Homo sapiens: one gene and its partners. The protein of the gene in region 4 interacts with the protein of the main gene of each other region in a pairwise test. Each region holds a gene or a part of one and is shown on either strand. Other genes may lie near its edges. The genes, in order: HMGXB3, CELF3, ANGPT2, ANXA7, MPPED1, CTSB and COL11A2.

What was found.
Region 1: the proteins of ANXA7 (region 4) and HMGXB3 interact in a two-hybrid assay, tested with the Homo sapiens proteins (one large-scale study listed by BioGRID and IntAct).
Region 2: the proteins of ANXA7 (region 4) and CELF3 interact in a two-hybrid assay, tested with the Homo sapiens proteins (one large-scale study listed by BioGRID and IntAct).
Region 3: the proteins of ANXA7 (region 4) and ANGPT2 interact in a two-hybrid assay, tested with the Homo sapiens proteins (one large-scale study listed by BioGRID and IntAct).
Region 5: the proteins of ANXA7 (region 4) and MPPED1 interact in a two-hybrid assay, tested with the Homo sapiens proteins (one large-scale study listed by BioGRID and IntAct).
Region 6: the proteins of ANXA7 (region 4) and CTSB interact in a two-hybrid assay, tested with the Homo sapiens proteins (one large-scale study listed by BioGRID and IntAct).
Region 7: the proteins of ANXA7 (region 4) and COL11A2 interact in a two-hybrid assay, tested with the Homo sapiens proteins (one large-scale study listed by BioGRID and IntAct).

Annotation. Positions count from the first base shown.
Region 1 is NC_000005.10:150,031,739-150,035,238, reverse strand, and holds part of HMGXB3 (HMG domain-containing protein 3), read right to left. Parts: intron 2,786-3,500; coding exon 2,636-2,785; intron 1-2,635.
Region 2 is NC_000001.11:151,703,304-151,706,803, forward strand, and holds part of CELF3 (CUGBP Elav-like family member 3), read right to left. Parts: intron 3,432-3,500; coding exon 3,366-3,431; intron 3,059-3,365; coding exon 2,921-3,058; intron 2,663-2,920; coding exon 2,519-2,662; intron 1,866-2,518; coding exon 1,738-1,865; 3' UTR 1,728-1,737; intron 146-1,727; 3' UTR 1-145. UniProt on the Homo sapiens protein: RNA-binding protein involved in the regulation of pre-mRNA alternative splicing. Mediates exon inclusion and/or exclusion in pre-mRNA that are subject to tissue-specific and developmentally regulated alternative splicing.
Region 3 is NC_000008.11:6,501,689-6,504,245, forward strand, and holds part of ANGPT2 (angiopoietin-2 isoform b precursor), read right to left. Parts: intron 1,574-2,557; coding exon 1,413-1,573; 3' UTR 1-1,412. UniProt on the Homo sapiens protein: Binds to TEK/TIE2, competing for the ANGPT1 binding site, and modulating ANGPT1 signaling. Can induce tyrosine phosphorylation of TEK/TIE2 in the absence of ANGPT1.
Region 4 is NC_000010.11:73,376,059-73,379,558, forward strand, and holds part of ANXA7 (annexin A7), read right to left. Parts: intron 2,966-3,500; coding exon 2,853-2,965; intron 160-2,852; coding exon 37-159; 3' UTR 1-36. UniProt on the Homo sapiens protein: Calcium/phospholipid-binding protein which promotes membrane fusion and is involved in exocytosis.
Region 5 is NC_000022.11:43,410,706-43,414,813, forward strand, and holds the start of MPPED1 (metallophosphoesterase domain-containing protein 1 precursor), read left to right. Parts: upstream 1-1,308; 5' UTR 1,309-1,453; intron 1,454-4,108. UniProt on the Homo sapiens protein: May have metallophosphoesterase activity (in vitro).
Region 6 is NC_000008.11:11,861,588-11,865,087, reverse strand, and holds part of CTSB (cathepsin B isoform 1 preproprotein), read left to right. Parts: intron 1-604; exon of another isoform or gene 605-712; intron 713-2,609; exon of another isoform or gene 2,610-2,743; intron 2,744-3,500. UniProt on the Homo sapiens protein: Thiol protease which is believed to participate in intracellular degradation and turnover of proteins. Cleaves matrix extracellular phosphoglycoprotein MEPE. Involved in the solubilization of cross-linked TG/thyroglobulin in the thyroid follicle lumen.
Region 7 is NC_000006.12:33,178,968-33,182,467, forward strand, and holds part of COL11A2 (collagen alpha-2(XI) chain isoform 1 preproprotein), read right to left. Parts: intron 2,204-3,500; coding exon 2,144-2,203; intron 2,039-2,143; coding exon 1,997-2,038; intron 1,764-1,996; coding exon 1,701-1,763; intron 1,366-1,700; coding exon 1,291-1,365; intron 839-1,290; coding exon 752-838; intron 521-751; coding exon 464-520; intron 318-463; coding exon 264-317; intron 160-263; coding exon 106-159; intron 7-105; coding exon 1-6.

The DNA of each region.
Region 1 (3,500 bases), on a different chromosome or scaffold from region 4:
GTTCTTGTACAGACTGCCAAATTATGAGCCACATAAACCTCTTTGCTTTATAAATTGCCTAGCCTCAGGTATTCTTTTATAGCAACACAAAACAGACTAGGACACTTAATAAGGAGCTTTTTATTAACTCCGCATACCTATGACAACTTTCATTTGTAATAGCTTGGTTATCTTTCTCTCCCACTAGACTGTAAGCTCTTCAAGGGAAAGGGCCACGTCCTATTCATCTCTGAAAGCCTGGCCCATAGCAGGCATTCAATATAGGCTGGCTGAGAGAATTAATTAATCAGTGGCTACAGAAGAGCTGACTAACACTAGAATGAGCTGCCCCGAGAGGCTGTGTGTTCTCAGTCATGACTATGAAACCACAGCTGGAAGACCACTTGGCAGGAATACTGTCCCGTGACTCTCGCCAGAGATGAAGGATAGAAAGGACTAAAGACCATTCCATCTCAGAGATGTGAAAACATCTGGCTACCAGGGGGCTCCAAATGACAACACACAAGAAGATCCCTGTGGTTCTGACCAGTGCTTTATTTTCTGGAAAGCAGTAATTACACTGTATTTCTCCAAACTTTAGGAGATTGGAAAGTGATGGAAGGTCTGCAGATGAGGGTCCTGGGGGTGGGCAGTTCTCAGTTAACCAAATACAGATGGATATAAGTTTAAGAGTGGGATTTGAAATTGGCAAGAGGTCCCTAGATAATTTCCTATGTCACCTGAGAAGTTAAGTTCCTTCATCATCCTAGATCTAGAGAGTAACACCCACTTCCACTGCAAACCGCGCAAATAGCTAAAATGAACTGGAAGGAGAAAGGAATGCTCAGAGCTTCTACCTACACAGAACTCAATTCTATCTCCTAATTACAGATAGACACACTTTGTATATGTAAGCTCCAGGGTTAGAAGGTGCAGGAAAAACAGACATACCTGCCCTAGAAGAGATTGTGGTCTCATAGGGAGTTAAGAAAAGCAGTCAATATGGGGTGTGATCAATGCTATGGCAAGAAGAGCACTTTGAAACCCACTGAAAATCCGGGAAGAAAGCTTACTTCCAGCAGCAGGCATCCAGTGGAGCAAGAGAATCTGATGAAAGCTACGGACCCATTTTGCATGCAATTTCAGGGATTTATAAACTCCTTAAAACTCAATTATCAGTCTTCTCTAAGGCTCCTGTCTCTTAAGAGTAAAATGCCCAGATCTAATCTACCTTGCCCACCTTACTTTACCAATGGAGAAACTAAAGCTCGGGAGAGGGAAGCTTCCAACTCAGGGTCACTCCCAGCCCCAGTGTTTTTCCCACCAAGCCATTAGTGCCCACATACTTTGGTTCCACTTTCCTTTCTCACAAGGACAATAACCTCAGAACATCACCTCAAGCACGGAAACAGACTCTGGAGACCAGGGTGAGATTCATCATCAAAAAGGCCTCTCTCCATATACAAATAAACCTCTAAGCTTGAAGCAGTTCTCCCCACCTCTGTAGTCCTGTCTACTCCCAAACTCTCATCCCATAAATTCCCCTCTTGAAATAACTTTCCTCTAGGCCTCTCCCCGGCTCAAGGACATTCAGTAGGACCCCACTGACTAAAGAACAAACTGACAAGACCTTCCATGACATGGTTCCAAGATGCTTTTCACGTCTTATTTTCCGTAACACCCCTTCTCCCACCCCATGCCCCCACGCCATCTCCTCCAGCCAAATGGAACACTCTTCATGTTCACTCACACTTATCCTTATCACTCACACTTATCCTTATCCATACTCACACTTCATGTTCACTCACCAGACTACAGTCTAGTGGGAGAGACTTAAGTATGGCATGCCTTCCCCTTCCATTCAAAACCTGCCTGCCTTTCAAGGTCCAGCCTTGATCTGGAGTGACCAGGCTCCATCTCAGGTCCTGACCTGTTCTGTGTGCCATCCCCTCTTTCCCCAAGGCAGACCAGTGACATTTCTCTTCTCATCCTTATTTTAGTCCTTCCATTTGCTGCCTCAAGTGCCACCATTTTCTGTTCACTTTAAAAAACTCATATGGAAATTCTGGGGACCTCTGAAAATGCCCATTTTTCCTGGTAATAGTAATAATAATAATAGCAGCCCTAAGGAGCCAAGTGGAATGTATTTTACTACCCAAGTAGTTTGGCCCAACTTCAGAGAGGAGGGCTGCCTAGACTGCTAGAAATAAAGCTTTGATTAACTAAAAGCTTTCCAAGGAGCCTGAGAAAGCAGCGGTGGTCTAATCTGCAAAGTCTCAGGTTGGCATTCTCTATTTACCGAAACAGTAAATCAACTTACAGGTCTTGTATCAGGCCTCAGCGGTAAGAGGATGCAACCCTTTCGTCCCTCTCCTTTCACTCCTACTTAAGGCCTGTGCTACATCATTCTCTGCAGTGAGTGAACTCTTGGTTCTCAGAGATCAAGATACCTAGTCAACCCCTTCACCCTGGCAATGGGGACAAGGAGGCTCAGAGAAAAGGCGGCACTTGCTCAGGTTCAGAACCCACCAACTGGTTCAGTTTGGATGCTCTAACTACCACCATGTACTTTAAAAATCTTCTTATTTCTACTAAGACAGGTTCACTAACAGAGCCCAGAACAGGCCAGGGGATGTGTTTGGGGGAAGGAACTCACGATAGCCTTGGTGGTTTTCTCAGTCCGGTCTTTGGCAAGGTTAACACCACAGCTGGGACAAATTCGAGGTTTGTGCCTGTTGGTGTAGACATAGCTACAAGAGGGATTCTTGCACTTTCCCCGGCCTCTTGATGTAGCCAGGCCCAAATCCTAAAAAAGTAAGACCAGTGTTCAATTCTACAAAAATTAAGTTAAACCTGGGCAGAACCCAGAACCAGAATGAGCAGCTGCCAGTAAATCAGAGAAGAGAGTGGCAACTGCAAACCAGATTCAGCCTAACTTCAAGAGCCTTAACCTTTTCTGCAGTTAACTCTTTTACTTTTAATACAGGCTGTAAATTTTTGGCAAATCCAGTCCAGTCCTTCCCTATCTGTGAAACAGGAGAGTTGACTCTCAATGGTCAGAAACTCAAATGCCTTCAGGGTCCAGGCAGTTGGTGGAGTAAAGCAGGTCTGTTTAAACAAAGAGTGCTTGAGACTGGTGAACTAAAGAGTTCAAGCCCTGCCTGAAGACAAACTGTGACTTACAGACTATTAAAGCTCAAAGCTCTAGCATCTAAGCTCCTATGACAAGTTACTATCTAATCAGCAGAAGAGAGGGTCTACTCAGGGGTAGTTCCCCCTAAATGGTAAATCTAGTTGCCTCCTGTAGCCAAAGGGAGTGGTGAGTGAAGGCATGGAAAAGGTAGTGATTATATTTAGGTCACAAGAGAAAGAAACCTGAGCAGATCTCCAGGATAAGAGACACATTCTCCTTATGGATCAGGTCAGGCCAGACATTAACCCATCACATTGTGCTGTCTTGTTTGCTACTGAATCCCCAGTACAGATCCTAGTACAGAATATGTGCTCAATAAATATTTTTT
Region 2 (3,500 bases), on a different chromosome or scaffold from region 4:
AGGGGCCGGTGTCTTGTGCCCCCGGGGGCCACGAAGCAGCGTTTGCCCCAGAACCCAGTCAAGGCCCAGGGCAGGTGTGCGGAGAGGGCCGGGGCCAGTCGTGGGAAGAGGGTGTGAGGCGCCCCTTCCTCTGGGATCTCCAGACCTGTGAAGGAAGAAACATGGGTGAAGCATGGGGAAGAGACCCCCGATGCGGATCACGGGCTCTGGGGGAGGGGAGGGGGCTGGGGTGAGTGACAGCATCTAGGATGGGGCTGCCTGAGGAAGGCAGATCATCAGGCCTCAGTCCAAACGGACCCATCTGCCCCCACCCCCAGCCATGAGAGCAGGGATAGAGGAGACAGGAGGGAGGGGGCAAACCATACAGGAAACCAAACGGTATTAGGAAGGAAATAGATAGCCCATGAGAAAAATAAAGACTGGAGGGGGAGAGAGGCAAAGAGATGACAACAGACAGGCAGGCAGAGAAATCGAGAGAGAGACAGAGAAGGGGGTGCGTGTAAGAGACAGACACCTGGAAAAAGAAAGGGAACACCCGCAGAGAAGGCCAGGGCAGAGCCCAGGTCACGGCTCAGGGATGGAGTCTCATGGGGTGAGACCACCCCCGGCCCCCAGTTAGTGCTCTCATTCCTTTTTGGAAAGGAACACAGAAAGCAAGAGAAATGCACAGAACACAGACCACAGTCACCAACCACTGTAGACCAAGCACGTCCCGCGAGCTGCCCCCGGCCCTGACCTTGGGCTTGGGGGTGCTTCCCTCCGCGGCCCCTCCCCAAAGAACAAACAATCGGCTCCAAAGACAACACGCTCGTTCCATGCAACTTACAGGGGCCCGGAGCAGGGGTCCGGGGATGGGGGCTTCGGCCGACAATGGACACGGGCCCTGGGCTGGGGGGGCCCCCAGGGTTGGGGGAGTTAAGCAGCCAGGATTGGGGGGAAAGGGGAGAAACAGAAAATGTGGGTATTTTTCTTGGGTTGTGTTTTCTCAAGGGTTTGGTCCAAAGGAGATTAAACAGTGCGAAAGTAACCAAGGCTCACAGCTCTGTGGCCATGAGGTTGAGGTGGTGGCCAGCAATGGGGTGGAGGAGACCTAAGTAAACTTCACAGGCGGCGCGACATTTCAACCTCTTCCACCTAAACCAGAGCAACTCCCAAGAGGCCTGAAAATGGGCTCCCCCAGTCTGTCCTGTGCACTCTGCTGCCCCATGGGTCTGCTGCTACATGGGAAAAATCACCTGAAGTCCAGGGAAACCAGGGCTGATGTCCTCACTTCTCAGGACAACAGAGATTCTAGGAGCCAAGGATTCTAGGGCCCTCTGGCACCCTCAGCCAACCCCTTAATCCTCCAGTCCTGTTCCCCTAATTCCACTCTAACCCGAAGGAAAACCAGAAAGAGACACACACAGACATGGACACTGACCAGACAAACGAGACCAGATATTGTGGAAGGTCCAGGGAGTGGACACATATATACAAAGACTTGGCTCTTTCTGGGGTCACGGAGGGTGTGTGTGTGTGAGAGAGAGAGAGAGAGAGAGAGTGACTCAGATTATTGAAAAACAGCTGAGGGAGCTGCCCCAGCCCCCTGCTTCAAGTGCCCAGGGTCAAGGGTGGGGTGGGCATCCCTGAGGGTGGTGGAGGACAGGGGTTGGGGGTGTAGTCCAATCGAGGGCCCTGGCTGCAGTGTGTGAAGCTGGGGAGGGAGGCCACAACGGAGCGGGACCCACCTGGGGGCCCTCAGTAGGGCCGGTTGGCATCCTTAGGCCGCTTTAGCTGGACTTTGAGGCGCTTCATGCCGATCTGGAAGCCATTCATGGCCTGGATGGCAGCCTGGGCACTGGCCGGATTGTCGAAACTCACAAAGCCTGGGGTGAGAGGGGCATAAGGCCCGGCCCAGCCCCACCTCGCTCTTCCGTGCTTAGGAGACCTCTGGCACTACCCTGTGTCTCCCAAGTGTCCCAAATGCCTAGAAAGCTGCCTGCCACATAGCAGCATTCCTTAGGAATTTGTTGATTGATGGGTTGAATGGATGAATCCAGTCCAGCCACTCCAACTACCACATTCTTCCCAGCATTCTGTGCCAGTGACCCCTTCCTCTGCCTGGATAGCTCTGAGCCTGCCCTTTGAAAACGGCCACTTCCAGACCCTAAATGGCTTCTGAAGCAGAGAAGAACATTCCCTTTCTCCCCTGAGGAAGACTTTCAAAGATGTGAAGGCAGCTAAAACCGACTCCCCAAGCCCACCTTTTGCAAACCAAACATCCCCAGACCATAAGCCTATTTCAGACCTCATGGGACATGAATTTGGCCAGTTTTTAAGAGAAACGCTGAAGGAAGAAGAGATGGGCCGAGGCAGCAGCTGGGTGTGGCATGTTGGGTGTGTCAAAATGGCTCTTTTGTACTCTTGGATAATCAGTATTTCAAATACTGGGTCCACTGTGACCATAAATGCCTTCAAATATATTAGACCTTGTCCTGATTTGGAGTATGGCAAAAAATGTGCCATATCATATTCTTACCAAAACATTTGCTTTGATTGGTGGCTCGGTCAACAAAGACTTTGGCTGAGATGACGTGGCCAAAGGGGACAAACATCTGGAGGATCTCTGAGTCAGTGAACTCCTGGGGCAGGTGGTAGATGAAGATGTTGCAGCCATCAGGGCCTGGGTGGCGACAGAGACAGAAGAAAGAGCTCAGTGACTGGGAGGCACACACCCCAGAAGCAAATGTCCCAGGGAAAGCAGATCCTGGGAGTGCCCTCCAGTCCCAGTCCTTGACAGTGTGGGCCAAGTCTCCGGCCACTCCCTCCCCACTTGCTTTCATCCTGACACGTGGGCAAGAGCTGGGCTCAGCGCGGGGTGACAGGGAGTCCCCAAGCCCATAACGAGGGCATTCCTGTCTCCCAAGGCCCCAGCCAGCACCTTCTCTTTGCTGCTGCTGCTGTTGCTGCTGCTGCTGCTGCTGCTGCTGTTGAGGTGGTGGTGGGGGCTGCTGGGCGACCAGGGCTGGAGGCTGCGGGAACGCAGGTGCAACCAGGCTGTAGGCTGCTGGGTAGGCTGCTGGGGTGGGGAGAAGAGAGAGGCTGATGGGGCTTCCCTGACTTCTTGAGCCCTCCCAGCCAACCCTGTCTCCCTTCCCCTAGCCCAGGCCAGTGGCACCTGCAGGGCTGAGAGGTGGTCAGGGAAGGAGCTGCCTCAGACCCCTGGGTGTGCTGCCCTTAAAGACCCCTCCCCACAGTTGGGCTTGTCAGTAAAGCCTGAAGAGGGTGATTGGCAGGGAGCCAAGAAGCCCAGACCCAGTTACTGGGCCTCTTTTCCTCCTGCCACCTCTCCCACCTGAGCAGGGGCCCTGGCTAGGGCGCCTCACCTGTGTAGTGCTGCATCCCCGCGTAGGCCTGCTGCAGGGGGTCCACGGGGGCCGCGGGGCTCTGGGCTGGGGAGAGCAGCACAGACTATGAGCGTGGACCTGGCACACAGTGGGGGCCCTCAGTGCCTCTCTGGG
Region 3 (2,557 bases), on a different chromosome or scaffold from region 4:
GGGATTACAGGTGCCCGCCAGCACGCCTGGCTAATTTTTGTATTATTTAGTAGAGACAGGGTTTCACCATGTTGTCCAGGCTGGTCTTGAACTCCTGACCTCAGGTGATCTGCCCACCTTGCCTACCAATGTACTGGGATTATAGGTGTGAGCCACTGCGCCCAGCCCTGTGTTCTCAAATTTTTGGTAAATATTTAAATATATTATGAACATCAGATTTTGTTTTTGCACTTTGAAACCCTTTTTTTTTTTTCAGTTTGCTGATTGACATAAAAAAACTTACTAGTGTCAATTATTTTTTTCCTTAAGTAAATTTAAGGGTGAATCTTGAGACATATAGCTTTGTAAATTTCTTAAATAGAAGGCTTTTCTCAACCAGAAATTAAATTGTAGTCTAGTTCTATAAAAATATATCTTACTAGGAAAGAAAACAGACCTCTGTTTTAGAATAGTGAGAAGATAGTAAAGTTTCTTTGTCATAGAATGAAATGTATAATTTTCCTCATCATTAAAAGTAAGAAGTTTCCTTATCACAAGGCACAATTAGGTCTTTTGGAAACAAATTATAAAATTGTAAATATTATCATAAAAGTTAAACATAGGCATATCCCCTAATAAGTTATATTTAATTACTAAAAATACCTTCATATTTAACAATCAGGCAGAAAAAAATAGTACGGTCTGCATATAAACTAAAATGGCACGTTTCTGTTGATAATTTCAGAGATTCTGGAAGTTTCTACCATATAAATTTGAAATACGTATTTGAGCATTAACTTATAACTAAGCTGTCAACATAAATGTAAATACGCTGTTTTTGAAATAAAAATTTAAAGCACCTAAGAGATGGAGTAAAAATGCACTAACTGTTTTTCCAAATATTAAACTTCTAGTAACCCCTTCTCAGAATATCCCTGAATATGTCTTTTTATGGCTTAGAGAGTTTTTTTCTTCCTTTTAATTGTGATAGTGATGGTGAATTCAGGACATATGGGTATTTACACAGTGTATAAACAGTGCTCAGAAGAATGCAGTTCCAAGATGATCTGTATTGTATAACATAAGTGTTCTGTTTTCCAGTTATTTACTGATAAACTTGCACATAACATTCTTGGTTGTGACAGCAGCGTCTGTAAACTGTCAGTCTGATTCTCAGCCTCGGGTTCATCTTTGCATAGGTGTTCTGTCTAATCACAATTATGGATGTTTAGGGTCTTGCTTTGGTCCGTTAAGTGATGCAAGTTTAAGTGATAAAGTTTACAGGCTCTAATCTGGAGCATGTGGGTCCCGTCAGCACCGAGCACACGCCCTCTGTGGTGGAAGAGGACACAGTGCGCAGCCGTGACTTTCAGTGCACTGGGCTTAAGTCTTTGAAAATAGTTCGAGACAGTTCCTCAGGTGGACTGGGATGTTTAGAAATCTGCTGGTCGGATCATCATGGTTGTGGCCTTGAGCGAATAGCCTGAGCCTTTCCAGTAGTACCATTTAATGCCGTTGAACTTATTTGTGTTCTGCCTCTGTGGATAGTACATTCCGTTCAAGTTGGAAGGACCACATGCATCAAACCACCAGCCTGTGAAAGTAAAACACAGAAGGAATTAGGAACTAGGTGATGCCAGCTCCCACCACGAAGACAGCAATACTCAGCTAAGGCAGGAGGCACACTGCAGGCGTGTGGAGTAGGCACATGCAGATGATGGTGAGTATAGGATGTGCACTGGCAGAGGGATTGTTTTCCAGCCATACACCCATGACATCACAGTTCCATTACGGCAAATGCTTTTACAAGCCTTCTTCCACCTTTTCCCTTGTGCTGTGTGGAGAGGCCTGAATTCTCCACAGTCCTATTTGGTAAGCCCACAGTGTGTACACACTTACAGCAGGAGTAAGCAAACATCTGAGGCACAGTTGGAAAACTCTCCTTCAACCAGGATTACTTTGCAGTCCCAGCAACATGGTGGGCTGGACTCGCTCAGGCTCCCCTTGCTCTATTAAATGATTTTTTCGGTTGAAGTTTAAACTAAAATATTAAGTACTCAGTGGAGCTACATAAAAAGGAAGTCTCTATGTTTCAGAGACAAAAAGGAAATTTAAAGTGAGAGTGTGTGCTCGCTCAGCTAAAGCCAGGGCAGGAGAGGTGTCCAGCACAGGGGCTGTGGGAGTGAAGCCCCATCTGCACCTTAATTTCTGGGCTTGGCCAAAAACAGGAGCATGCTGGGGTTTGTGAGAGAAAGAAACACAGTAGTCCCCCCTTATCTGCTATTTTTGCTTTCTGCACTTTCAGATACCTGAAGTCAGCTGGGCCAAAAATATTAAATGGAAAAATCTAGAAATATTCTATAAGCAGGGGCCGGGCGCAGTGGCTCACGCCTGTAATCCCAGCACTTTGGGAGGCCGAGGTGGGTGGATCACGAGATCAGGAGACCGAGACCATCCTGGCTAACACGGTGAAACCCCGTCTCTACTAAAAATACAAAAAATTAGCCGGGCGTGGTGGCGGACGCCTGTAGTCCCAGCTACTCGGGAGGCTGAGGCAGGAGAATGGCGTGAACCCGGG
Region 4 (3,500 bases):
AGAAATTTTTTTTCATTAAAAAAAAAAAAATCCCTCCTACTGGCCCACAATAGCCAGAAGAAGTCTTCGGTAATCTCCACTCGTGTCACCTGCAATCATTGTGCCCAGAGTCTTCTGATACATCTGAGCGAACATCTGTTTTATTTGTACAAGGTCAATCTGCATAAGAAATAATATTTCTGTCAGAAAAACATCTGTGACAACTGACATTTCTTAAAATTCTTTTTAAATAATAAGATCTTAATAATAATCAAAACTTGGGGGGGAAAACACCAAGTGACTGACATTTTATGGCTGGCACTCATACCAATGCTAGCACTACCCAATGAAGGTCTGATTCACAGCTCTGTAAAATACTTGGTCAGGGTAGTACTAGTTTCATCTATTATTCCAAAGATATTAGTCATTTAAAAACATTTGATAGGATGGCTATTATCAAAACCAAAAAAATAGTAAGTATTGGCAAGGATGCCATGAAATGGGAACACTTGTACACAGGTTGATGGAAAAGTAAAAGGGTGCAGCTGCTGTGGAAACTAATATGGTTAATTCCTCAAAGCAAAACAAAAACACTTCCAAAGAATTACAATATGACCTAGAAATTCCACTTCTGGGTATATTCAAAATAAGTGAAAGTAGACTTGAACAGATATTTGTACATCCATGTTCATAGCAGCATTATTCAGGCAGAAACAAACCAAGTGTCACAGATGAATTAAAAAAAAAACCAAAAGGTGGGATACACGTACAATAGACTATTTAATTACTCAGTCTCAAAAGGAAGGAAATTCTGACATGCTATAACATGAATAAACCTTGAGGACGCTATGCTAAGTAAAAGACAACACTCACAAAAAGACAAATATTGTATGATTCCACCAATATGACGTACCTAGAGTAGTCAAACACAGGCACAGAAAGTCACATGGTTTGTTGCCAGCAGTTGGGAGAAAGGAGAATGGGGAGTTACTGTTTAAGGAGTATGGATTTTCAGTTTTGCAAGTTGAAAAAACATCTGAAGGTGAATGGTAATGATGGTTGCATAACAATGTGAATGTACTTACTGCTACTTAAAAATGGTAAATTTTTATGTTATGTATATTTTATCACAACTTAAAACATCCTGCTTTGAAAATTTAAGTTAAAGAACAAAGTTTTTTTCAAAATACCATATTCTGGTTGTTTTCTTTAAAAATAATCTACCTTCTTTAGTATAATTTAGGGTTTTTGGCCGGGTGTGGTGGCTCATGCCTATAATCCCAGCACTTTGGGAGGCCGAGGCAGACGGATCATCAGGTCAGGAGTTCGAGACCAGCCTGACCAACATGGTGAAACCCAGTCTCTACTAAAAACACAAAAAAATTAGCCAGGCATGGTGGCACGCACCTGTAATCCCAGCTACTCAGGAGGCTGAGGCAGGAGAATCACTTGAACCCGGGAGGCAGAGGTTGCAGTAAGCCGAGATTATGCCACTGTATTTCAGCCTGGGTGACAGAGCGAGACTCCATCTCAAAAAAAAAAAAAAAAAAAAAAAAAAAAACACGCAATAATAATAATAATTTAGGGTATTTTTTTGACACAGGGTCTCTGTCACCAAGGCTGGAGTGTAGTGGTGCGATCACGGCTCACTGCAGCCTTGACCTTCCAGGCTCAGGTGATCCTTCCACCTCAACATTCTGGGTAGCTGGGACTACCATGCCGGGGGGTGGGTGTGGGTGTGTGTGTGTGTGTGTGTGTGTGTGTATTTTTTGTATAAATAGGTTTCACCGTGTGTGTGTGTGTGTGTGTGTGTGTATTTTTTGTATAAATAGGTTTCACCATGTTGCCCAGGCTACCACGCCCCGGCGTGTGTGTGTGTGTGTGTGTGTGTGTGCGCGCGCGTGTGTTTTTTGTAGAAATAGGTTTCACCATGTTGCCCAGGCTGGTCTCAAACTCCTGGGCTCAAGCAATCCTCCCGCCTTGGCCTCCCAAACTGCTGAGATTACAGGAGTAAGCCACGACACCCCGCCATGTTTTCTTTCAATTAAAAGTTCAGGCCAGGCGTGGTGGCTCACGCCTGTGATCCCAGCACTTTGGGAGGCCGAGGCAGGTGGATCACTTGAGGTCAGGAGTTCGAGACCAGCCTGGCCAACATGGTGAAACCCCATCTCTACCAAAAAAATACAAAAACTTAGCTGGGCATGGTGGCGCACACCTGTAGTCCCAGCTACTCGAGAGGCTGAGGTGACAGAATTGCTTGAACCCAGGAAGTGGAGGTTGCAGTGAGCTGAGATCGTGCCACTGCACTCCAGTCTGGGTGACAGAGTGAGACCATGTCTCAAAAAAAAAAAAAAAAAAAAAAAATTCAAATGTCATTTCTTCTGAGAAAAAAAATTTTTTGTAAGTGGAGTAAATATATAAAGTACAATTTTTAAAAATGAGGCTATACTTGAGACAATTATGAATATTTTAAAAATTGTTTTATTATTAATAAAGGATGCTAAATTTAAATAATGTTGATATCCACTAGGATTAATCTACATAGGCCTTTCATCTAATTTTTATATAAGCAAAATGAAAATCGAAAGACAAATGTCTAACTTCCCATAAATTTGTATTCTCCATTGACGTTCTCAAGTTGTAAAATCTGTTAGTATTATCTTCATTAGGGTAGAGTGGCCTATTTCACTAATGCAAGCTTCTCCCACAGCATGAGGAAAGTGAATTTTCTGTTCTTTATACCACCTCTTTTAGGTGGCAAAGAGAGCTCTTTCTTATCATTTTTGAGGGACTGACAACCAACTGGGGAACTTTTAAGAAATCAACATTGAACATCAAGTAAGACCCGACAAAAAGAGAGAGGCCTGCCTCACCTCACTTCGAGTGACCACAATCCGGACCAGGGTGGAGTCATCTGTGCCAGCACCTTTCATAGCATAGTAGAGCCTCTCAGCAAAGAAGGCAGGGCGGTTCAGGGCACACTGCACTGCAAGTTAGAGATGGTTGAGACATGGAATCATGATCTCACAAGAAGTGTACCCCTCCAGCTTCATTTATCACTTATAGCCTGCCTTTGATTATTTTCTCTGTAATCATCACAGAAACATGGGGTGAGTTAAGAGTGTTCAGATGCTCTCCTTGATTTTTTTTGAGACAGGTTCTCACTCTGTCATCCAGCCTAGAGTGCAGTGGTGCAATCATGGCTGACTGTAGCCTCCCAGACTCAGGTGATCCTCCCACCTCAGCCTTCTGAGTAGCTGGGACTACAAGTGTGAGCTACTGCCCCTGGCCCAACATTCCATTGTTAATACCAAAGTGTTACTAATACTCCCCTTAGTCCTAATATCCATGAGAATGAAACTTTCACTTTGTTAGACATCTGTGTATTAGACCACCAGAAACTGGTTAACTTCAAAAAGGAAATGAGTCTCACTGGGCTGAGTACCTGAAATATCTGTTTTGAGGACTCAAACTGCTTCGTGGTGACACTGTGAGTTCCTCAGGACTTTCCCTTTCTCTTT
Region 5 (4,108 bases), on a different chromosome or scaffold from region 4:
CACTCCCAGCCTTGCCACCTCATCTTCCCTCCCTTGCTTTTCCTTTGTCTCTAGCCCCAATGAACTCACATGCCAAGGCCTTTGCATGCCGCATTCCCTCGGCCTGGATGTCTTTTCCAGGCCTTCTCTCCTGGCATACACTCATTCAACTGGGCTGTCCCCACCTCCAGGAAGCCACACCAGATAGCAGTCCTCAGGGGCAGAATAGGCCTGAGGGGCCCGCAGAGGGTGTCCTTGGGGATTGTGTGATGTGTGTGTTGGTGAAGGGAGACCCTACAAGCATTTGTTGAGGGGCTTTGGGCCTCTGAGGAGCCACAGCCCCTTTTCATCTTCCTCTCAGTCTGGGAGGCCCAGGCCAGAGTGATCTGCACCCTAACTATACAAGGCCCTGGAATCCCCGTCCCACCCGCGGCAAGGGGCTGGAAGCCACAGGGCCTTAAACTCCCCAGGGTGACCCCCGACACTGAAGGCGATGGTCTCTGCTCTTCCCAGCAAGGCAGGGCCTCTTTACACTGGGTGTCGCGCCGTCTGAGTTCCTGACTTGTTTACCCATCCCGTTGGGGCTCCGGCCGCTGCAGGCTACCTGCTGTGCCCGGGATTGGGGACCTGTGACTCCCGAGTGGAAGAGATGGTGGCCCAGGAGGAGGACCCCGACCTATTCAGACTGGGAGCTGGGGTCAGAGTGTCTCCGTCTCCGGAGGGGGACCTTCCAGACCCCGGGCGGGAGGGGCCCACAGCAGGGTGCCCCGGCGGCCCCAGGAGGGGGTCCGGGCCTCGGGCGAAGGCTGCGGCGCCCCGGAAGGAGCCGCGCACGCCCCTGCACGCGGTGCCCGCTGCGGAGGCCACGGATCCGGAGGTGAGAGCGCCCCCGCCCCGCTCCCTGCCCAGCCCGCGCGCGGCCCGGTCCGGGGCTGGGGGCGGGCGCCAAGAGGGGCGCCGGGCGCAGTGGGGCGGCCCCCTCCCTTTTCCGCAGCGCGGGCCCCGCTCCTCCTCCCGCGTCCAGGCCCGCGGCCGCGCTCCCTGTCCCTCCGCAGCGGGATGCGGACTCCGAGCCCGGGCGGGGGCCGAGGGCCGAGGCCTGGCGGGCCTGGCGGGGGCCCCGGCGGGTGGCGGCGCAAGGGCCGGGACCGAGGCCGCGAGCGCGCCCCTCCCGGCGGCCGGGCGCGGAGAGGCGGGGAGGGCGGGCGTGGGGAGGCGGGCGGCGGCGGGCGGGGGGAGCCAAGGAGGCTCGGAGCCTCGCGGCGCGCGGGCGGGCGGCGGAGGGGGCGCGGGGAGCCCCCCGCCCCACGAAGGAGGAGTCTGGCTCCCACTTGCAGCCTCGGACGCGCGGCGAGGCGGCCGCCGCCGGAGGAGCCCCCGCCCCTGCGCGCCTCCCTCCCGGGAGCCCCTGCCTCCCTCGGTGCGCGCTGCTGCTCGCAGCCGCCGCGGCCGCCGAAGAGGAGCCCGGGGCCAGGTAGGACCGGAGGCGGGCGGGGCGCGGCGGGCGCGGGCGGGAGGCCGGGCGCGGGGCGCGGCCGGGACCCTCTCCAGGCGCTGGGCGACGCCCGCGGCGCTGCGCAGGGGCGCCCGCAAAGTTACTTTGGCCGCCTTTGCCGGGTGCGGGAAGCGGGCTGGGCACCCCAGCTGCCCCGCCTGCCTAGCGGGCGGCGGCGGGAGGGGGCTCCGCCAGGGCGCGGGACTCCGGCTGGGGCCGCGGGGTCAGCGAAACTTTTCCCTTGCTCGCCAGTCGCTGCTGCTGCTGGCGGAGTAGCTGGTGGAAGCAGCGGGCTGGTGGAGTGCCAGTGATGATGATAGTGGTAACAATAGCAGCCCCCGCTTGTAGAGAGCCTACTGTGTGCGCTGCCAAGCCCCTGCTGGCACTTGGGGGGGAAGAGATAGGGAACGAACGCTGGCCGAGTGGCCACTTTTGCTAGGTATTGCTGGAAACTTCATCCATTTCCTTCCATCCATTCATCCCTCCCTCCCATCCATCCATCCATCCATCCATCCATCCATCCACTCACTCAACACATATTTATTCCTGTCTGCTATGTGCTCGGCCAGGGGATTCAGTGGCTACCTAGACAGGTCCCAGCCCTCAAAGGGAATGTTGATCATGGAATGCCCAAACTAAGGAGCAGTTCTGTCTCCTGTGTGTTTGTTCTGGGACATGTTACGGGAGCGTGAATTCATGCTGTCTCCCTTCACCCTGGCAGGGCCAGAGGCGTGTCATTCAGAGCACTGATGTGCCCAGGAGTCTGGCAGGCCCCGGCCTGGCCTTCGGAACTCACCCTGCTCCTTTCCCTCCCACCTCTCCGGGCTCAAGCTGGGTGGCCCAGTTGGTGTCAGGAGGCTCCACTCCGGAACTGGCCCCCACCCCTGTCCAGCTGACCTCTCTGGGATGTCTCTTCCCCAGTGCTGGGCTGGCCTGGCTCCCAGCTCCCCTCCCAGAGTTTCTTTGCCTTCCCCCTCCCCATTTCCCCTGCTCTATTGAATGGCCCAGAGGAGAGCTTGTTAAGTGGCAAACAATTATGAAATTAAACTGGGGGAACAAAAGTGGGCTGGCTGTTGAATGGCGGAGCTGGCTCACGGGAGTTGAATGGCACTGGGAGACTTGTTAGCAGGGATCTGCGGCGCCGGGGGGCGGGGGCGGGTCAGGCAGACAGGCACTGTCAATAATCTGACTGGACTTTGCAAAAAAAAAAAAAAAATTAAACCAACTTGGTGAGAAACCTGGCACAGGGCGATGTTGGAGAGGCCACCAGCTGACTGCCACGTCCAGTCGGAAGCCAGATCTTGGTGTACAGGAGCCAGGGCTCTAAGAGACTATTTGGGGAGGGTGCTGATGGATTCGGCCGGGCTGAGGCAGGGGAGAACCTCAATGCGTTTGAGCTTGTGGTGCTAGGGAGGCATTCTGGAGCCAGGCGCAGTCTGCAGGGGCCCTCTGTGTGGGAACCACGCATGATAAACTGCGCTTCACCGTGCTGGGCTCCTTGCAAATTGGCTTTCTGAGTGGCAGCCCCACAACACTTGTAAAATCTTTTTCTGGAGATGGATTTCGGTGGAATGGTTCCATCGATTCTAGTGCTTGCTCACTGGAGGTACATTAATTGGGCGATGGCTAGTCAAAAGGCGATAATCCAGTCACGGAGGCTTAATCGTGTGTTCGGAAGTGTTTCAGTGTGGGACTGCCTTCCTATTTATTTCTCGGCCCCAGGAATTTCGGAAGACCTGGATTGAATGAGGTCCCTGTACTGGTGATGTGGATGGGTTCAGAGAGTCACCTACATGGCCGAGGAGGTACCTCTGATGTAACCACCCCGTGGTACGCTTAGAATCACTCACATCCACCCTGGCTGATGCCCCGTGGGCTATGCCTGTAGACAGATAGGACAGGTTTAGATCTAGGCGAACAATAAGAATTTTAGGGTGTTTTACTTGAGCCCCAACTGTCAGGAATACACAGACTGATGTAGGGAATCATCGTTCTTGAAAAGCCTGCTTTTAATAAATTCCCAGCTCACCCATGAGACTCTTAAATCTTCATCCAATGAATGTGGCTTAAGTTCATTTGTTCTTCTTTGAACTTTGCTACCTTCCCAACTAGGCAGTACGGGCCTTGGTATGCTCACTTTATACAGGACACATCTCTCTCTGCTTGTTTGAGGAATGACGGTGGTCGCTGGGATTCCGTGAAGGGCAGCATTAAGGAGAAAAATCAGCATTCTGGGTGCGGGTCTGGACTTCTGGAAAAAAAGAAAACCCTCCCCAAAGTGCAATCATCTTTTAGTCTATCAAAATGACTTCATTTTCCCAATTTCAGGCCTGTGAACTGATCATGAATACCGGGGGCAGAGGAAATTAATCAGCCAGGCAAAGACTTTTAACAAGTAAATATTATGCACAGAAAAACATGCAATTAGTGGAGGTTAGTTAATGCCTTTCAAGTTGCATCAGGCTGCAGTTAAGGGTGGAATTTCTGCGTTATCCCTGGATTGTCTGTCAAAGTCTTTAATGTGACAATGTGACATGTCTCTCCCATCGCCCCTCCCTCACCGGGAACAAAAAAGGGTCTTTTCACGAATTCCCCCTTTCCATTCTTCTTCTCCCTGAGATCTTTCCGTTCAGC
Region 6 (3,500 bases), on a different chromosome or scaffold from region 4:
CAGGCAGCAGTCTCTACGTCTGGTCCCAGGCTGCCTGAGAAAGAGCATGTGGGAGGCAAACCTTGCGCCCTGGCATGGTTGTTAATGTTTATATTTACCCTAGCTTGTGTGGGGTAGGAGGTTTAGGGATCAAATTCCACTCTGTGTTTAGACATTTTTTTCTTTCTTTTTTTTTTTGAGACAGTTTCACTCTGTCACCCAGGCTGGAATGCCGTGGCACAATCTCAGCTCACTGCAACCTCACCTCCCAGGTTCAAGCAATGTTCCTGCCTCAGCCTCCGGAGTAGCTGGGATTAGAGGCATGCACCACCATGCCTGGCTAATTTTTGTATTTTTAGTAGAGACCTCAAATGATCTGCCCGCCTCGCCTCCCAAAGTGTTGGGATTACAGGTGTGAGTCACTGTGCCCAGCCATGTGTTTAGACTTTTAACTAATCTCTTTTTTAGTTTCAAGCCTTATCGTCCGCCTCTGTAGACCACTCCTGTGCCTGTTTCCTGATCCTTCCAAGGGCCATTGTATTCCCTGTCTGCTGCCCCTCTTTTGGATTCTTCTGCACATTTTTTTGTTCATGCATTCATTCATTTATTGTTTGATTAATGACAGGGTCTTGCTTTGTCTCCCAGGCTGGTGTGCAGTGGTGCGACCACGGCTCACGGCAGCCTCAGCCACCCAGATGTAAGCGATCTGGTTCCCACCTCAGCCTCCCGAGTAGTAAGTAGCTGGGACCACAGGCGGTGCCCAGGTTTTTTTTTTTTTTTTTTTTTTTTTCGTTGGTAGAGACAGGGTCTCACTGTTGCCAGGACTGCTCTGAAACTCCTGGTTTCAAGTGATCCCCTTGCCTCCTCCCACTTAGGCCTTCCAAATGCTGGGATTACAAGGCATGAGTCACCTCCAGGCCTTTTTGTACTTTTAAAACTCTGCATCAGTGTATAAACAATGTTATTAAAGTTTATATGACTTCAGTTACACTACATGGATCCTTTTTCACTCACGGTTGTGAGATTTATTTCTGTTGCTACATCCAGTTCTAGTCCATTTGTGTTAAGTGCCCAGTGTGTTTATCTACTGAGGGACAGTTATGTTATTTCGTGTTCACTATTATCCCATGCTACAATAAATATCCTGTGTCTCCCAGATACTTAGAAGAGTTTCTGCAGGGCACATGTGGGAGAGTTTGTTTCTGGGTCATGAGGTGTGTTCATCTTCCATCTTGCTAGATGCTGGCAAAGGGTTCTCCAGTGTGGTTGCATCAATTTACTCGCCCAGCAGTGTGCAGAGTTCCTGTTCCTCACATTTACCAACACTAGATAGTACCAGACTTTGATTTTTGCCAATCTGATGGGTTTGAAGTGGTACCCCTGTTTTAATTTCATGACCAGAAATTCAAATTTAATCTTTGCTGTAGGACAACAGTAACCCACTTATGCCTAGTGTTCCATTATTAGAACGCTAAGCATGTGGGAGTTTTTACATCATACTGCTCAAGGTCATCGCCAAGGTCTGATGTTTTTACTCGTGCAAAAATTTAAAAAATTGCAACCTCTGGCATAAATGGGTTGAGTGACACTTTTCCTGTTTTTATTGTTGGTCAGTGATGGCATATTTGCTGGGTTTTTTTGTTTTTTTTTTGAAACGGAGTCTCACTGTGTCGCCAGGCTGGAGTGCAGTGGTGTAATCTCGGCTCACTGTAACCTCCGCCTCCCGGGTTCAAGTGATTCTCCTGCCTCAGCCCCCTGAGTAGCTGGGATTACAGGCGTGTGCCACCACGCCCAGCTAATTTTTGTATTTTTAGTAGAGACGGGATGTCACTATGTTTGTCGGGCTGGTGTTGAACTCCTGAGCTCATGATCTGCCTGTCTTGGCTTCCCTAAGTGCTGAGATTACAGGCCTGAGCCACCGCTAGCCTATTTATTTTTTATTTTAAATTTTAATTTTCTATATAGAGACGAGGTCACTATCCTGCCCAGGCTGGTCTTAATCTCCTGGGTTCAGTCAATCTTCCCACCTTGGCCTCCCGAAGTGTCAGAATTATAGATGTGAGCCACTGTGCTCAGCCCAGAACTGATGTTTTCTAAATGCTGGGTGCTGAGAAGGATGTGTGGCTGGCAGTCTTGACTGTGTTATCTGTCTTTACCAGGCCAGTAACTTCTTTGGTCTGGTCATCAAGATAATCTAGCATCACCAGCAAGCATGCATGGAGAAGGATGGGCCCAATGTGGCCAAGATGGTAACGGGACCAGTAGAGAGCCCTGTAGAAGACATCTAGATATTCTGCCCTAAGAGCCCGGAGGGCCGGGCTGTCTCATGACCCTCTGACGTGCTGACCTGGACTCTGGCAGAATGTGCACACACACAGTCACACAGCTTCCTGGCTTGCGCAAGTCCCAGGAGGGCGGTGCCAGCCACAGGCTTTTCCCATTCGAGGGTTGGAAGCGTATCATCAAACCACATCAGAGTGCTGGGGGCCACCTGCCACCCATTCCCAACCCACTCAGCCTTCCTGGTGTTTGGGACATGCTTTGCTTTGGCAGTCAAGACAGCAGAACAAATCAACTTTTAAGGCCTTGTCACTGATAGTACAATTTCCATTATTTTTCATCCAAATTAGGATACTTCTGAAAATAGAAATGATGACTCTGGGATGCAAACGTTGGCTGTCCTATGTATAAGGAGATGGCTTTTCACGCTCCCAGTGACTGAGGAAGTTTCTCCCAGATGGCGCTGCTCTGAGCCTGGTGCAGGGTAGGCACTTTCAAAAGAGTGTCTCCTTGTATCTTCCATCAGCCTTGCGAGATGGGTATCTGTTCCCAGGGCCCCAAGGGAGGAAAACAGGACCTAGCTGGATCCAAGAGCTAGGCCTTTCTTTTTTTTTTTTTTTTTGAGATGGAGTCTGACTCTGTCGCCCAGGCTGGAGTGCAGTGGCGTGATCTCGGCTCACTGCAAACTCCGCCTCCCGGGTTCACGCCATTCTCCTGCCTCAGCCTCCCGAGTAGCTGGGACTACAGGCGCCTGCCACCATGCCTGGCTATTTTTTTGTATTTTTAGTAGAAACGGGGTTTCACCGTGTTATCCAGGATGGTCTCGATCTCCTGACCTCGTGATTCGCCCACCTCAGCCTCCCAAAGTACTGGGATTACAGGCGTGAGCCAGCATGCCCGGCCCAGAGCTAGGCCTTTCTGTGGCTGGCCTTCGCGTCAGCCTCAACTACCCTGGTGTAATCTCGCCTGCGGTTGAATTAGGGAACCGCCGTGTTCTGCAAGCTGGAGAGGCAGAACACTAATGAGCAGAACACTAATCTCATTGCAATCTCAAAGGATCTCTAAAAGCTTTTATAAAGCAGGCCCAAGGTCCTTTGGTATCCGATGCAGACGTGGTGAATGCATTGGCTCTGTCAGCATCTGAGCAAGTCAGTAACAGAAATGGGGAGTAAAAGCTTTCAGAACTTTCCAGAATATTGACTAAATTGTCTTGTTTACAACCAACAACGACAACAAAAAAT
Region 7 (3,500 bases), on a different chromosome or scaffold from region 4:
CCGGCCCTGGGAGAACAAGGGAAGTGTCAGAACAAGCAGGGCCGCAGTCCCCTACCCTGCAGGCCCTGTCTCCCCACAACACCCATCCACCCCTGGGGCACTCACCCTTCGCCCAGCCTTGCCAGGAGGGCCTGTGAGGCCCTGAGGTCCTCTGGGGCCCTGGTGAGAGGAGAGATGGGGTGGGGTTAGGAGGCATAGGGAGGGGAGTGAGGGAGACTGAGCTGGTGAACAGATATGGGGGTGCAGTGGAGGAAAGTGGTCACCTGAGGTCCTAAGTCTCCAGACTCTCCTTTCAGGCCAGGGCTCCCAGGTTGGCCCTGGGAGAGAGAAGAGAGGATGGCCGTAAGGAAGGACACAGCCAACAGTGGCCTCGGAGTGTTCCCCAAAAGAAGCCCCTTTCCAGAACTATCCACACCCCACACACAATTAAAGCATCCTCCACCCGAGCACCCTGCTCACTCACCAAGGGTCCAGGGCGCCCTGTGTATCCCATGGGGCCAGGGGGTCCACGGAGCGCCAGCTAGGGGAGCAGGGGGACAGCAGAGCTGAGGGACAGGCAGTGGGAACCCCCAGCCCCAGCACTCTCCAAATTCACCCTTCCTCTCCTGATCCTCATCCACTGCCCAGGATTCTCCCCAACCTCCCTGTTAACCCCAAACCAACCCAGGCCTCCCCTGCCGCACACTCACTCCAGCCAACCCTTCCAGTGCCCCCCAGAGCCTTCCCTTTCCAGGGAAGCAGCCCCACTCACCCTCGCCTGCTGCAGGATCGCCTGGGCCTGAGCCTCCTGGGCCGCCACCACAGGGCCCTTGTCACCCCCACCACTGCCAAACCGGAACTGAGGTCAAGGAGAGAAGGTCCAGGTTCTCTTCCAAGAAAGCCATGGGACCCTCCCAGCCAGAGGCTTTCTCCAGCGTTTCTGCCCCTTGCCCCAGGTTCTGCCCATCCAGCATTTCCCATGGCTTCCAGATAATCACTTAGAGGATTCCAGAAACTCAACTCCTGCCCTCCTCCACTGTCCAGCCTCTGCCTCCAGAAAGACTCTCTTTTGGTTCTAGAGCTCCTGAAATATAGGCTGTTCTGCCCAGTCCTAGAAGACTGGTGTTTTGTTCTAGGTCACCTAATGAGGCCCCATCTCCCCAACCCCAAAGACGAATCCCTTTGGAGTGATGATCTTTGATGATCTTTAGAGACTCCTCCATATCTTTCCTGCCCATCTGGTTCTTGGTAACATGACACAATTCCTTGTCTTCCCCATCAGCATGTTCCAAAACCCAAGAGACAACTCACTGGGAGCATGAGAGATGTGCCAGGAGGACCAGGAGCCCCATCTGATCCAGGGAGCCCTGCTCGGCCAGGGGGGCCCTGGAGTGGGAAGAGAATGCAAAAGATGGGGTGAAAGATAAGGGGACATCAAGATCTTAGCATGATTTTGAAATATCCTCTTCAACAGAATAAGTGTAGATTGCTCTAGCTCTTTCCTGAGTCTCCCACCCCCATGGGGAAAATTGAGGGTGAGAAACCAGATCAGCACCCTCCCCAACCAGAGTCTGCCCTCCTTTCTGGTTGCTGGGAAGCACAACCATCCCCTCATTCATTAACAAGCCACCTAACAGGAAATTACTGGGCATGGTAGCCCCCCGCTTGGATACCACTAGCTCCCCCGAAGCTCCCCCGTCACATGGAGGACACCCCCTTACCCTCTCTCCAGGGTCTCCAACTGGGCCTGGGTTCCCCTGGATGCCAGGGGGACCAATCAATCCCTGAGGAACAAAAGAGTAGGGGTCAGGTGTGGGCATTCAGACAGGTGTGGACACTCAGCCTGTGGCTGAGGAGTGGTCTGTGCAGAACAGATCTGGGAATCTGGGAAGCGTTGATTGGAGGGATGCTCCCGAGTTCTGAGGAGGAGGCCTGGGCATATGTGGGGAAGGCTCAGATGAGCACATAGAAGGGGTTTCTAAGAAAAGAATGGCCACCAGGTCACTGCTAGACTTACCGCAGGGCCTTCTGGGCCAGGGGGCCCCTCCACGAGCATACCCTGTGGAGTCAAAGGTTAAAAATCAGAGGCGACAGGACCAGCACACTCAACCCCACTTGCTTCTCCTATTTCCACTGCCTCAGCCCTGTGACCAGCATAACTTACAGGTTCCAACACTGCAGGCTCTCCTTTCTCTCCCTTCAGCCCTCGGGGTCCATGGGCAGCCTGAAGGAGACACACATGTAGCCCCCAGTGGGGCCCGTGAGCAGCCAGGACACTAGGCCTTTCTCCATCTCAACTCCAACCTTGATTCTTAGATCCTCTCGAGACCACTTCAGCCCTACCCGAAAGCCCCACAGCCCTCCCCTAAAACTCCCTCTTCACAAACCTTTCAAGCCTGCCAAGGAGACCTCAGGGTTCCCTGCCCCCCCAGTTCCCAGCCCCACCTCAGCAAACACAACCTCTCCATCTCCCTGAGAGCCTCTTTCAGGAAGGTCCCCAGAAACTTCCAGTGTTTTTGTTTGTTTGTTTGTTTTTCTTTTTTTTTGAGACGAAGTCTTGCTCTGTCACCCAGGCTGAAGTATAGTGGCGCGATCTCGGCTCACTACAACCTCTGCCTTCCAGGTTCAAGTGATTCTCCTGCCTCAGCCTCCCAAGTAGCTGGGATTACACTGGGATTACAGATGTGCACCACCATGCCCGGCTAATTTTTGTATTTTTATTAGAGATGGGGTTTCACCGTGTTGGCCAGGCTGGTCTCAAAGTCCTGACCTCAGGTGATCCGCCTGCCTTGGCCTCCTAAAGTGCTGGAATTACAGGCGTGAGCCACCACACCTGGCCCCTTTCAGGGATTTTAAACCACCCACCTTCCCAAACCCTCTTCTAGAGGACCCTATCCCATCTCCCAAACTCCCTCCCTAGAACCTTAAGAAACCTTCCACACATTTACCCCAATACATCATAAAAGAATCTCTCTAAGATTGTGGGTAGATTTTTATTTGGGGTAAGAGGAGGGCATGGACCCACATGAGAACCTGATAAAAGCTAGGCCGGGCGAGGTGGCTTACGCCCATAATCCCAGCACTTTGGGAGGCGGAGGCAGGCAGATCACCTGAGGTCAGGAGTTTGAGACCAGCCTGACCAACATGGTGCAACCCCGTCTCTAATAAAAATACAAAATTAGCTGGGTGTGGTGGCACATGCCTGTAATCCCAGCTACTTGGGAGGCTGAAGCAGGAGAATAGCTTGAACCCAGGAGGTGGAGGTTGAAGTGAACCAAGATTATGCCATCGTACTCCAGCCTAGGCAACAAGAGCAAAACTCCATCTCAAAGAAAAAAAAGAATCTGATGAAAGCTGTGAGTCTTTCTCCAGAAATGAAAAAGTATATGCTATTATGCACAGAATTTTATTTAGGATTTCAAAGGGTTCACAAGTTTAAATATGCCCCAAAGGTTAAGCATCCATACTCTAAGTAAATTTGGAGGCCAGGCACGGTGGCGCACGCCTGTAATCCCAGCACT